2 linked regions of the Homo sapiens genome follow. The main gene of each other region encodes a partner of the protein of the gene in region 2 in a complex. Each region holds a gene or a part of one and is shown on either strand. Other genes may lie near its edges. A codon is read from its position in the direction of its gene.

Region 1 (6,911 bases), on a different chromosome or scaffold from region 2:
TGTGGACGCCAACCAGGCAGTTCTGCAGGAATAGTTTAGGTTCTCAATTTGAGATGGCCAAAGAGAAGACAGAATTCTCCAGGAGAAGAGCAAGACATGGGAGACAAATACAGAATAAAGCACAAACTGATCACACAACAGAAAAGGAGGAGTGTACAGGGTCTGGGAATCAAGACTGCAGGTTGACATTATCTACCAGCCAGAAGCAAAAAGACACAGAGGGATCAAGTCCATCTGCTGGTCTGCCTCTCACCCCTGGCCAGGGACTGGAGGTGGATGTGGGCCCATCCCGGGAGGGCTGCCAGACCCAGTGGGGCAGACTGGAATGCCTTTTCCTGCTGTTCCCACCACCTGATGCCCTATAGCTCGAAAAACCACTGAAGTCTAGTGTGCGACTTTGAAAGATTGTAATATATGCTCTGGAAAACATTCAGCAGTACGAAAGCCCTCCCTGGGCCCTCCCACCCTCTCATGGTCCACAACTGGTAGAAAGGTCCAGAAATCCTTGAGCTCTGGAAAGGTCCCTGGTCAGTCCTTGGGGAGCTCAGATAGCTATATTGGAAGAACCTGCTCAAGTACGGTTCTTGATGTCTGGGGAATCCTTTCGGGGAAGATCACTTCAAACTCAATAATGAGGTCCCCACGTTTCTCGGGTGTTTTGGGGAGGGGGAGGCCTTCTCCAGGAACTTTTCGCCGCATGCCAGGCCTGATAACATCTTTGAATACGACGGGTATCGTCCTGCCGTCCAGAGTGGGGACGTTCACTGTGCAGCCACACAGAGCCTTGAAAAGCAAAAGGACAGCATTAGATGGAAGCTGGCTCAAGAGGCTCAGCTCTTGCCCAGAGGCCGTCTGCCATAGATAAGACCCATCAGGCCTCTGCAGCTAAGACCTGGCCCCCAAATCTACACGTCCCCACCACGAAAGCTCCACAACAGCGCCCTGGTCAGTCCTGTTCACTGTTGTGCCCCAAGCCTGGCACGCACCACACACCCCAACACATTGGTTCAGCAAATACTAAACTGCTTCAAAAAGCAGCCATCGCCCTCTACAGACACCGCCCCACCTGGCACCTTACCTCCCGGAGGCTGATCCTGGCAGGATAAATGACATCAGAGCCATCTCTCTTAAAGATATTGTGGGGCTTGTCCTTTAAAACAAAGACGATATCAGCTGGAATGTTGTTGGAGGTCTGGTCTCCTTCCTTGGGGAAAGTGATTTTGGTTCCTTCTTTCCACCCCTTCTTCACTTCGATGGTCAATATTTTGTCTTCGTTTCGAATGCTCTTTCCGTCGGGGTTTAGCCGCTTGTGGGAGATTTTCATCTTCTTGGTACAGCCGCTGTAGATCTCTTCAAGGGAGACTCGAAGGTCGTGGGTGACTGGGGGATCTTGCTTCTTTCGGGCGGGCTCTTGGGCAGAGCGGGAGCGGCCAAAGTTCACGTTGGTGAAGCCACCCATGCCCATAGGGAAGCCAGAGAATGGGTCATCAATGTCCATGCCTTCCTCCCCGTTCCGCTGCCCAAAAAAGGTGTCAAAGGGATTTCTGCCACCGAAGAACTCAGCAAACATGGCATGAGGGTCTCCATGGAATGTGTAGCTGAAAGAGGTACCATTGGCACCACCGCCGCTACCGCCACTGGGGCCACTCCCCTTTAGGCCTGAAAAGCAGATTTAGAAGCAGTCAGATGGCTGAACAGCAGACTCTCTCTCGAGCTTCCCTTACAGGGGGAAACAGCTTGGAAGCCATGGGGGAGGAACTTTTTTGTCTGTCAGGGGAGAGCAAGGAAGAACCCCAAGTTTCTACCTCTCACTGCCAACAGCAGAGACGCCCCCCTACCAACAGTATTTCCGCGTAGCCTGACAGTGGAAAAGGACTCATGCGGTTAGGTGTTCACCTCCAGGTGCCACCTAGGCCCTGCCACTCCTGGACTGACCCATCCTCCTGGCAACATCACCAAGAGATGGCTAAAGACACATGGTCCAGGGTCGGCTTTCGGTAAGTGTTTACTCTCAACGTTTTAGGGCTAATGGTGCGTAGGAAGAGAAGAAAAAAAAAAACAAAAATAAATAGGGAGTTTTTAAATCCTCACACATTAGCATTCACTGCCACCATCCTTGCACAAAAAGTCAGCTCCAGATCAAGCCCAGAAGCCAGCCTGAATCATCAACGGGCACAGGAACAAAAAGCCCTGCTCTCCTTACCCTCCGAGGCGGCCCCGCTCTCCGGACCTGGGCGGCCGCTGCCTCCTGCGTGCCCTGCCGGGGCCAGGTCATCACTTCCCGGGAATTATCCCAACCCAGCCCCCAAGCCCACGAACGGGGTCGGCTCCTGCATTCACAACCCCTCGCCCCGCAGCTGAGCCGGAGGCGCCGCCCCGCGGACCCCGGCGGCCGAGCCCAGGTGAGCCCGGGTCCGCAGCGGGCTCCGCCGCGCCGTCCCCGTCGTCACCCCCGGCTCCCCCACCCCCATGCACCGCACCCCGGGGCTGCTCGGGGCCGCGGGAGGAGGCGCCCGGGGAGGGGCAGCCCCAGACATGCTAGAAGCTTCTGGCCGAGCGGCTGGGCCAAGGCTCCTCCTCCCACCGCGCGGCCGCCAATCCGAGGGCGGAGGCCCGCGAGGCCGGAGGGCGGGGCAGCTCGGCCCCACGGCCCGGGGCGTCCTTCCCGGGGGGCCGCCGAGAGGGGCCAGCGTGCCTCAGTTTCCCTGTCTGTCAAAAGGCGGGGCCGCGCCCCTGGCCGCGAGCACACACCTTCCTCCCCGTAGCGGTCGAAGATCTCGCGCTTGCGCGGGTCGCTGAGCACGTCGTAGGCCTCAGCGATCTCCTTGAACTTCTCCTCGGCGCCGGGCTCCTTGTTCTTGTCCGGGTGGTAGCGCAGCGCCTGGCGGCGGTAGGCCCGCTTGATCTCCTCGTCCGACGCGCCGCGGGCCAGGCCCAACGTCTGGTAGTAGTCTTTACCCATGACCCCCTCCTGCGGCCCGCCGACCCGCTGTCGCCGTCCCCCGGCTCCGCCGCCGACCAGTCCCGGACTCTATATACCCGTCCGGCGGAAGCTTCCAGAGCCCGCCAGCCCCCTCCAGAACCTTCCGCCCCGCCCGCCCCCGCGGCGCCGGCCAATCGCCGCCGCCCTTTCAGCGACACGCGACATCCGGGGCGGGGCCTCGCCGTCAACGGCCGCCCGCGCGGGGCCACGCCCCCTCCCGCTCCGCCCTCGGCAACACCTCCCCGCGGCGCGCGCGCACAGGTCGGAGGAGGCCCCGCCCACCTTTCGGGACGAGCCAATCGCGACCTTCTTTCCCTCTCTACGCGGCCCCAGCTACCCTGCGTCCCGCCCTCCGCCTGGGTCAGTAGGTCGGGACCCACAGCGAACTTGCTGTTCCAGGAAGGGGTGGGGCCTGGGACTACCCAGTCCTTTCCCCGGGAGGCGATGAACCTGCTCGCCCTTGTCTCGTGGGGCCTGCGGTGGGCTCCCGCCCGGTGACGCCGGACGAACTACCTAACCTGTGTCTGCCTAACCCAGGGGCCCCCTTCTATCTACAACATGGCAATAAGAGAACCTATCAGGCCGGGCGCGGAGCCTCATGCCTGTAATCCCATCACTTCCTGAGGCCAAGACAGGAGGATCTCTTGAGCCTAGGAGTTGGAGACCAGCCTAGGCAACATAAGGAGACTCCGTTTCTATTTAAGATTAACAAACAGGCCGGGCGCGGTGGCTCACGCCTGTAATCCCAGCATTTTGGGAGGCCGAGGCGGGCGGATCACTTGAGGTCAGGAGTTCGAGACCAGCCTGGCCAACATGGTGAAACCCCATCTCTGCTAAAAATATAAAAATTACCCGGGCGTTGGTGGCACGAACCTGTAATCCCAGCTACTCAGGAGATTGAGGCCTGAGAATAGCTTGAATCGGGGAGGCGGAGGTTGCAGTGAGCCGAGATCCGGCCGTTGCACTCCAGCCTCGGCAACAGAGCGAGACTCCGTCTCATAAATAAATAAAATAAGTAAAATAAAGTAAAATGAACAAAAAACCCACCAGCGCTATTCTCCCAACCGTGGGGAGAAGGATTTTGGGACGGAAGACTGCCTCTGTTCTCACCTCCTAAAGCAAGGTGAGGATCTGGACGGAAGCGCATCTCCCAAGGTCCTCCCAGTCCCGCCTTCTTCCCTTTACTGCCCTCTCAAGATCACTTGCCGCTAAATTTGAAATTTATCTTGTCTCTTGGCTTTCAATGTGTCTTCCCTCCCAGTCTGACATCGCCACCTGGGCAGGGGCCAGGTCCTGTCTGCACTGGGTCCCCAGTGCCTGGAACGCAGTGAGAACCTCATAAATATTCCCCGTTCTTACACACGTGCTTCTTTTTCTTCCCCAACTACCTTTATAATTTGGGGGGACATAGGTGTGTCACACACCTTTCAAGGCCTCTGTTTCCTCAATTGTAGGCAACACGATCGCGTTTGGCTCTGAAAGTCTGGGGTGCCTCTGTCAAGGACAGAGCTGATGGGAAAAGGAGGCTCAGAAAGGGGTTCCACCTGGGAAGGGCCCAGGGAAGTGGGGGAGGTTCCTGGAAGAACTGCCTGGGAGGTCAGAGCCATGTAACACTGGCTCTGGAACCAGACAGCTGGGCTTCATTCCCAGCTCCAGCATTTCCCGGCTGGGTAACCTTGGGTTAGTTACTAGGCCTTTGCTGGCCTTAGCTTCCTCATCTGCACAATGAGGAATGAGGATAGCAGTTGTGCCCACATCATGAGGGCTTTGAAGTTTATATGAGTCAACATTTGCAAAGTGCTCAGAGCAGGCATGGCACAAAGGAAGCATTGTCAAAGGGGTGACTAACCATTTTCTTAGTGGTGGGCTCTTCAGCCATCACCTCATTCCTGGCAGCTAAAAGATTCCAGTGACAGCTGCCCCTGGGCAGACAGGGACTCCTGAAGAAGAAGACCATCCTCCTGCCTCCTGAGGCGGGAGGATCTCTTGAGCCCAGGAATTTGAGGCTGCAGGCAGCTATGATTGTGCCACTGCACTCCAGCCTGGGTGACAGTGAGACCCTCAGCCTCCCCATAAAAAAGTTACATAAATAACTATCAGGAGCATCATGGCGGATAGTTACATAAATAACTATCAGGAGCATCCAGCAGGCAGATCTGGTTCTCTTGGCCCACTCAATGATCTCTGAGGTAACTGCATCAGCAAGAACTCTGGACTAGAACTGGACAACCCGGGAGGATGGGGCTGAAATTCCCTAGACATCGAGAACCATACTTGAGCAGGGGTCCTGAAGCAATTATGGGGAGAGAGAACTTGATATTTTTTAAAAAGTTACTAGGCTGGGCACAGTGGCTCACGCCTGTCATCCCAGCATTCTGGGAAGGTGAGGTGGGAGGATCTTTTGAGGCCAGGAGTTCCAGCCTGGGCAACATAGTGAGACCCCATCTATACAAAAAATTAAAAATAAAAAAAATTAGCCGGGTGCAATGATGTGAGCCTGTAGTCCCAGCTACTCAGTGGACCAAGGTAGGAGGATAGCTTGAGCCCAGGAATTTGAGGCTGCAGTCAGCTATGATTGTGCCACTGCTCTCCAGCCTGGATGACAGTGAGATCCTGAACCTCCCCATAAAAAAATTATATAAATAACTATCAGGAGCATTATGGGGAAAAACTCAGAGCTTGTGACTTTATAAACTAGTATTTTATAATATAAATTTAATTTAGAATTACAAGTGCAGCAGCCTCCAAAGGCTTTAACATGGCTCTGGGTGGGCCTTTCTGGTTGTTCTAAAGTTTCTTGCCATAGGCCAGGCACGGTGACTCAACGCCTATAATCCCAGCACTTTGGGAGGCTGAGGCAGGTGGATCACCTGAGGTCAGGAGTTCGAGACCAGTCTGGCCAACGTGGTGAAACCCCGTCTCTACTAAAAATACAAAAATTAGTCGGGTGCGGTGGCAGGTGCCTGTAATCCCAGCTACGCTGGAGGCTGAGGCATGAGACTCGCTTCAACCCGAGAGGCAGAGGTTGCAGTGAGCCAAGATCGTGCCACTGTGCTCCAGACTGGGTGACAGAGTGAGAGTTTCAAAATAATAATAATAATAATAATAATAATAATAATAAAAGTTTCTTGACACACTGGAGGGGAACATTTTGCTAAAAACACTGCGGAAGGGATGTCTTTGTGCTTGGGGTCAGTGTTAGAGCTGGGAACTCTCCCCTCCTTGAGTAAGCCTGGGTCATGTTCAGGAAGTTTTGTTTGTTTGTTTTGAGATGGAGTTTCACTCTTGTAGCCCAGGCTGGAGTGCAGTGGCACGATCTCAGCTCACTGCAACCTCCGCCTCCTGGGTTCAAGTGATTCTCCTGCCTTAGCCTCCCAAGTAGCTAGGACTACAGGTGCTTGCGACCATGCCTGGCTAATTTTTGTAGTTTTAGTAGAGATGGGGTTTCACCATGTTGGCCAGGCTGGTCTTGAACTCCTGACCTCAGGTGATCAACACGCCTTGATCTCCCAAGGTGCTGGGATTACAGGCGTGAGCCACCACGCCCAGCCAGTTCGGGAAGTTTTAATTTTTTTTTTTTTAATCAGTTCTAGGAGCCAGGAAATTAAACAAACAAACAAACCCAGTAACTCTCTCCTAATGGACATGGTACTGTGACCTGAACACTCACTGAGAACTTCAGAATATTACTGAAAAAATGGCCTCTGCGTCAACTTCAGCAGATATTGGGCTCTTAACTTGGAAAAGCTGTTATAGTTGTTTGTTGTGTCAGCGTGGCTAAGCTCTAGAACCTAGTTATTCAACTAAACACTAATCTAGGTGTTGCTGTGAAGTTATTATGTTGATGCGGTTAGGTTAGCACGTCTACAGTTGCTTGACTTTAAAAACAGGACATGACCCTCAAGGATGTGAGGATGTAAGCGGGCCT
Region 2 (6,827 bases):
AACCTCGTCTCTATCAAAATACAAAAATTAGCCAGGTGTGGTGGCGGGCGCCTGTAATCCCACTTACTCAGGAGGCTGAGGCAGGAGAATTGCTTGAACCCAGGAGGCGAAAGTTGCAGTGAGCCGACATTGCGCCACTGCGCTTCAGCTTGGGTGACAAAGCAAGACTCTGTCTCAGAAAATAAATAAATAAATAAAACCTCCTCATTGGAAAAGGAACTGAGAGGCACTGTGTCGGGGCAGAGGACAGGTTTACAACAGACTGGTTTCAACCCTGGTTCTCCCACAGCTCAGCTCAAGACTTTGGATAAGGTGCAAAATTCTCTTGAGCCAATTTCCTCAATGGGGATAGTTAACACCTGCCCCTCTTGTAGAACTGCAAAAGTCATGGGAAATAAGGTAGATAGAGGGCTGAGCAAGGAGTGGAGCTTGAAGAAATGACAGCTTCCTTCCCTTCCCCAATTCCTCACCTTTGGCATTTCGCTTCTGCTGAAAGTTACTATTATGCCAAAGAAAGGCCAGGTGAGCTTTTCTTCTGAAGAGACAGAGCCGCCCAAAGGACAGTGGTTTCCAACACTTACCTTCTCTGCCATCCCTTCTTCTCCTCCAATGAAAAAGTCTGTTTTGCGTCGAAGGAAGCTGAAGAAGGTGTTCACAAGCTGAAAGAGGGGGAGAAGATTAAAGTAGTAGAGCTGCATTTGGGAGCCCTTCAACTGCACACAAGTCAACTTGTTTTGTCTAGGAGGGAACTTGGGACTTGACTATTTTTCCTCTGAGCTTCCCAACTGAGGAGATTATCTCCCCAGCAGGTTCTCTTAGTCACTTCCACCATGAAGCAGATTTCTCATATCCTGTGTGTGTGTGCGCCTTTCACTTTCCTTGTGATGCTAGAAGCAGCCTAAGCGTATGGAACACTCCTCTGCATCCAGGGCATGAAAAGCCTGGGCCCAGCTTTCCTCTCCAGAAAGTAAAAAGCCCATCAAGACACTGGCTCACACCTATAATCCCAGTACTTCAGGAGGCTCAGGTGGGCGGGTCACTTGAGGTCAGGAGTTCAAGACCAGCCTGGCCAACATGGTGAAACCCCGTCTCTACTAAAAACACAAAAATTAGCTAGATTACAGGTGGTGGGCACCTGTAATCCCAGCTACTTGGGAGGCTGAGGCAGAGAATCACTTGAACCCGGGAAGCAGAGGTTGCAGTGAGCCAAGATCGTGCCACCGCACTCCAGCCTGGGTGAGAGACTCTTGTCTAAACAAAAAAAAAGACACTGGCTAAGTTACCGGGTCAAAGCAAGAAGGAGGAGAGCAAATGAAGCCACTTCAAAGGAGGATAAGATGGATTAATTCTGGCTGGAGTACAAGTGTAGCCAACGGTTTGAGTATCAGATGGACATATATTACCTTTTGACTTTGCAGAAGTTTCTTAACTCTGTACAACAGGAATAAGATGCAGTACCTATTTCTAGGGACCTGGTGAGGATCATGAGGTCAAGGAGGTGAGGCCTTTAGCAATGTATGGCACAGAGCAAGAGACCCACTGGCAGAGGGTAAACACCTTACAAATAGGAACCATGAACCATGGCTTAGTCTGTCTGCCACCTGCAATGCTGGGCACCAGATATGGCTAAAGGTACATAATCAGTAAAATTCTTGCTGAATGAAACAATCTAGTGGTGACTCAAGGTCAGCACACACAAACCCTTTATTTGCCCAAGAGTGGGTCTAAATCTGATTAAATCTGATGCTAGAACATATCTCAATGGTTTCCGTTCTTGCTTCTAGACAGTTTTTCAATTTGCTCAAAAATGAACTCGCTCCCAAATCCAGTTTTGTGCGAACAGTTTAGAGGAATGGAGACAGGAAGGCTTTTCACACTTGCAAATGAGAAACACTCTCCCCACCACAAAGGGCTTAGAAGTCCTTGGTCACCAGACACCTAGGTTACATAGGAATAGAAAGTTCAATGGAAACCTACCTCCAGTAAGACACAATCAGCCATGGACTCTGGGAAGCACACTGACCTGTCTAGGTGAGAACCATGTTGCATGATCTAGGCAAATCCTTGCCACTTCTCTGGCTCTGAGAATGAGAGTTCTGATCCTGACAGACTTTTCTACCGTTAACTTTGTGTTTGTTCCAAAAAAACCAACTCCAGAATCTGTAACAGTTGGCCCTTATTGTCGAGTGTGGGACACACATCAATCACACGACAAATACTTGTTGAATGAAAAAGCCTTATTACTGAGAACTTACGGTTCTTAACTACTCTCTGGAAACCGGTATTCGCAGCTGTCTCACAGATAAGGAAACTCAGGCTTGGAGAGATGTAAAGGTTCCAAGTTGGTAGGTGGTGGAAACTAATCGTGAACACAGGCCTCCTATTCCCCCATTCAAGGCCTAACAAGACCACGTGCTAACATCAGCCCGCTCCCCTACCACACACATTCGACGGCTCGCCCCAAGCCTTGGTGGATCCAAATCACGATATTTGCGACGGTTCTTACTAAGGGATGCTCCTTGGAAGCCGCCATCAAAGTGGAAACGGGGGTGGGGGCATATGTGAAACTAAAGGGGGATCCTAAGCTCAGGGATGCGATAATTTGCTACTACTGAGGGGCGCCGGGGGCCCGGGACTGATGCGAACCGGGTGAGACCTGCTGGCGGGTGGCCAGGCCGGAAGCTGGGCGCAGTGAGAATGTAGGGGCATCCCAGAAGCCCGCGAGCCGCTGGGGTGGGTCTCAGCCCTCGAAGGCAGAGAAGGGCGGAAGGAGCGTGGCCAAGGCCGCCGGGTGGGCCGACGCCGCGCGGGCCGTTACCTCCTGCACGCCGCCCTCGTGCTGCTGAGCCATGGCCAGCAACATGCCGTCGAACCGCTCCTCCTCCTGCTCTCCGCCCATCGCGCCGGCTCCGATCCACGTCCCGGAGCTCTGCACTCTAGTCCCGCGCTCTCTACGCTCCTGCGGGTCGCGCCGGGCCCAACGACTCTAGTCGTCCGCCTTCCGCAGCGGAGCCGGAAACACGCACGCGCGCGGCTGCCCAGGCCCGCCTCCACCTCCTCTCTTCCCGCCTTCCTCCCGGTTTGCGGCCATTGACCGTGCGGCAAGCAACCCGCTTCGCCGACCATTGGTCGACATTCGGAGCCAATCAACAAGCGCGTCCACGAAGCGGTAGGCGGAGCCGTGGGCCCGAGAGTTTGGCATGAGTTGCTATGGTCACCCGATGCCGTGGAGACTTCTAGAAAGCCCTGGACTCAAATCTGGCAGGGTTGGAAGTTAAAAAGGGACAAGTTTTGCCCCTCTCCCTTGCTAGCGACCCCCCCAGCTTGTAGAGCAGTGAAGCTGAAAGTAGCCTTACTCATCTCTTCCAATCCTAGAAGGGACTTACCACAGGACAGCCTCCTCCTCATCGACCTCACTGCGTACTTGACTAGGGCCAGCTTCATGGGAGTACAAATTGCAGTCGCACAGCACCCAGGCTTAGAAAGGCTCCACGCTTGATTTCATGGCCTTCTGTTATAGTCTTGAAATTCTTAATAATTTTGGAATAAGGAGACCCACATTTTCATTTTGCACTGGGCCCAGGAAATTATGACAGGTGCTGAAATTGACCTTCACTTCTGTTAATGCGGGGACAGGACCCAGCCATCCAAGCTAATCCCTCCACTTGTGCAATGAATCTCATCATCTTAGTCTTTTCAGGAACTCTATCCCTGTTAATTATCCCTTTTTTTAGCTTATGCATCACAAATATCTTTCTTCTTCCCTTCAATTTACAAACACGCTTTAATATCTTTTTGTTTGTTTTTAGAGATGGGGTTCTTGCATTGTCACCCAAGCTGGAGTGCAGTGGCACCATCTTGGCTTACGGCAGCCTTGAACTCCTGGACTCAAGCCATCTTCCCCACTTCAGCCTCCAGAGTAGCTGGGACTACAGGCTCACATCACCACGCCCTGCTGTTTTTTTTTTTTTGTTTTTTGTTTTTTGTTTTTTGGTAGAGATGGAGTCTGTGTTGCCCAGGCTAAGTCTCAAACCCTGGTCTCAAGCACTCCTCCTGCCTCAGCCTCTCAAAGTGCTGGGATTACAGGTGTGAGCCACCATGCCCAGCCCTGTTTTTATATTATTATTCCATGGCCCCACTTTCTTCTGCTGCTACCTCTCCAATTTTCAGCTCTCATTTGCAGCAAACTTGTTTGCTTGTTTTTCTACTCCCTCACCTCCCATCTCTCTACAGTATATTCTAGTCTATCTATTCTTCTTTTTTTTTTTAGACCAAGTCTCACTCTGTTGCCCAGGCTGGAGTGCAGTGACACGATCTCAGCTCACTGCAACCTCTGCCTCCCAGGTTTAAGTGATTCTCAGCCTCCCAAGTAGCTGGGATTACAGGCACCACTACGCCTAACTAATTTTTTTTTGTATTTTTAGTAGAGGGGTTTTCACCATGTTGGCCAGGCTCGTTTCAAACTCCTGACCTCAAGTGATCCACCTGCCTCGGCCTCGCAACGCGCTAGGATTACAGGCATGAGCCACTGCGCCCGGCCTGTTCTAGTCTATTTTTTAAAGGCTCTGATATGGTTACAGTGCTACATATTGCCAAAGCCAATGAACCACTATTATCTTACTCAACTTCTCAGGTGCATTTGACACAGTTGACGCCTTCTTCTTTCCTTTTTTCCTTTAGGTTTCTCTTTTGGTTGGAATTGCGTGTTCCCCACTTCAGACTAGAGACTTCTCCCTTTAGATTAGAGATTCCTGGAGTTGATCTGTGTCTTCTCCCTCAGACTGAGGGCTCTTGAGGGCAGGGCCTTGCACTTGCACGGGCCCATCCTAGGCACTGGGAGCAACCCCAGCAATGTCTTCATAGCGTCAAATACATATTTTTTTTTCTTTTAACATGCAAAAGCAAAATTCTAAAATTGCAATTGGTTAAGACTACTATTTCTTCCCACTCTATCTCACTTTCCCTTGAATCAGGTGATATCAGAGATGCCATGAGGATTTGGTGATCCAGCTAAGGTGAAGTTGAGTTGGAAATACACTCAGTTTGGATTGATTTGGTGGGATATAGCTGGGTGGCTGGCAGTCACTTTTGTGTATAGTTAAGTCATTGTGAGCTGTCCTGGTGTGTGGAAAGGGCTTCCAGGAATATTCCTACCATTTGCTGTACCTCATGACCCTTGCTGTACAGGATCAGAAGTCTTATCCCAATATAAATGATTCCCAGGACAACTGGAAGTATGTGAGCAGTGAAAGAAACAAGTTTATGTGTGGAACAAGAAGCAGATCCAGGCCGACTGCGGAGGCTCATGCCTGTAATCCCAACACTTGCAAAACATAGCAACACAGCAAAACCCTGTCTCTACAAAACAATTTAAAAATTAGCGGAGTTAAATAACGAGTTGATGGGTGCAGCACACCAACATGGCACATGTATACATATGTAACAAACCTGCACGTTGTGCACATGTACCCTAGAACTCAAAGTATAAAAAAAAAAATTAGCGGGGCATGGCAGTGGGAGCCTGTAATCCCAGCTACTCAGAAGGCTGAGATGGGAGAATCACTTGAGCCTGGGAGGTCAAGGCTGCAGTGAGCTGTGATCACGCCACTGCACTTCAGCGTGGGTGACAAAGCCAGACCCTGTCTCAAACAAAGGAAAAAAAAAAAAAGTAGCTGGATGTGGTATTTCATGCCTGTAATCCCAGCACTTTAGGAGGCCGAGGCAAGTGGATCACTTGAGGCCCAGAGTTCAAGAGCAGCCCGGCCAACATGGTGAAACACCATCTCTACTAAAAATACAAAGATTAGTTGGGTGTGGTGGTGTGCGCCTGTAATCCCAGCTACACGGGAGGCTGAGGTAGAAGAATCACTTAGGCTGGGTGCAGTGGCTCACGCCTGTAATCTTATCACTTTGGGAGGCTGAGGCAGGTGGATCACCTGAGGTCGGGAGTTCGAGACCAGCCTGCCTAACATGGTGAAACCCCATCTCTACTAAAAATACAAAAACTTAGCCAGGCATAGTGGTGGGAACCTGTAATCCCAGCTACTTGGGAGGCCGAGGCAGGAGAATCTCTTGAATCTGGGAGGTGGAAGTTGTAGCGAGCCGAGATTGTGCCATTGCACGCCAGCCTGGGCAAGAAGAGCAAAACTCCATCTCAAAAAAAAAAAAAAAAAAAGCTGGGTGCGGTGGCTCATGCCTGTAATCTCAGCACTTTGGGAGGCCAAGGCGGGCAGATCATGAGGTCAGGAGTTCGAGACCAGCCTGGCCAAAATGGTAAAACCCCATCTCTACTAAAAAATACGAAAAATCAGCTGGGCTTGGTGGCAGGCGCCTGTAGTCCCAGCTACTCAGGAGGCTGAGGCAGGAGAATTGTTTGAACCTGGGAGGCGGAGGTTGCAGTGAGCCGAGATTGGGCCTCTGGGCCTGGGTGACAGTGAGACTCCGTCTCAAAAAAAAAAAAAAAAAAAAGAATCACTTGAACCCTGAGGCAGAGGTTGCAGTGAGTCAAGATCACTCCACTGCGCTCCAGCAGCTGGGGGATACAGCATGACCCTGTCTCAAAAAAAAAAAAAAAAGATAAATCAAGAATAATGGACACCAGATTCCTCGGTGTGAAAGACAGGAAGTATAAATACACAAGGGGCAAAAACTAGAATGAACCCCATGATATGAGCTTGGAATTGGAGATGATAGTCTGAATTCATGTTGTTTAGTATGTATAATTATAGAAATAAATATAATTGTAAATGTGTGTGTGTGTGTGTGTGTGTGTGTACACATTCATTAGCTCTAGGAAGGACTGGGAGTAGTGACCCTCATAACAATGA

What was found. Proteins that work in one complex are often made in the same cells at the same time.
Region 1: the proteins of NUDC (region 2) and DNAJB1 are in contact, whole or in part, in a crystal structure (PDB 7NDX), measured with the Homo sapiens proteins. Residues at the interface, in NP_006591.1 of Homo sapiens: Pro102, Gln103, Ile104, Lys105, Glu106, Leu107, Ala112, Leu115, Gln116, Ile119; in NP_006136.1 of Homo sapiens: His166 (codon at 1,375), Lys181 (codon at 1,330), Lys182 (codon at 1,327), Met183 (codon at 1,324), Lys184 (codon at 1,321), Ile185 (codon at 1,318), Ser186 (codon at 1,315), Asp201 (codon at 1,270), Lys202 (codon at 1,267), Ile203 (codon at 1,264), Ile235 (codon at 1,168), Phe237 (codon at 1,162).

Annotation. Positions count from the first base shown.
Region 1 is NC_000019.10:14,515,388-14,522,298, forward strand, and holds the start of DNAJB1 (dnaJ homolog subfamily B member 1), read right to left. Parts: upstream 3,011-6,911; 5' UTR 2,963-3,010; coding exon 2,752-2,962; intron 2,551-2,751; exon of another isoform or gene 2,204-2,550; intron 1,660-2,203; coding exon 1,079-1,659; intron 784-1,078; coding exon 553-783; 3' UTR 1-552. UniProt on the Homo sapiens protein: Interacts with HSP70 and can stimulate its ATPase activity. Stimulates the association between HSC70 and HIP. Negatively regulates heat shock-induced HSF1 transcriptional activity during the attenuation and recovery phase period of the heat shock response.
Region 2 is NC_000001.11:26,917,921-26,924,747, reverse strand, and holds the start of NUDC (nuclear migration protein nudC), read right to left. Parts: upstream 3,006-6,827; 5' UTR 2,900-3,005; coding exon 2,819-2,899; intron 660-2,818; coding exon 582-659; intron 1-581. UniProt on the Homo sapiens protein: Plays a role in neurogenesis and neuronal migration. Necessary for correct formation of mitotic spindles and chromosome separation during mitosis. Necessary for cytokinesis and cell proliferation.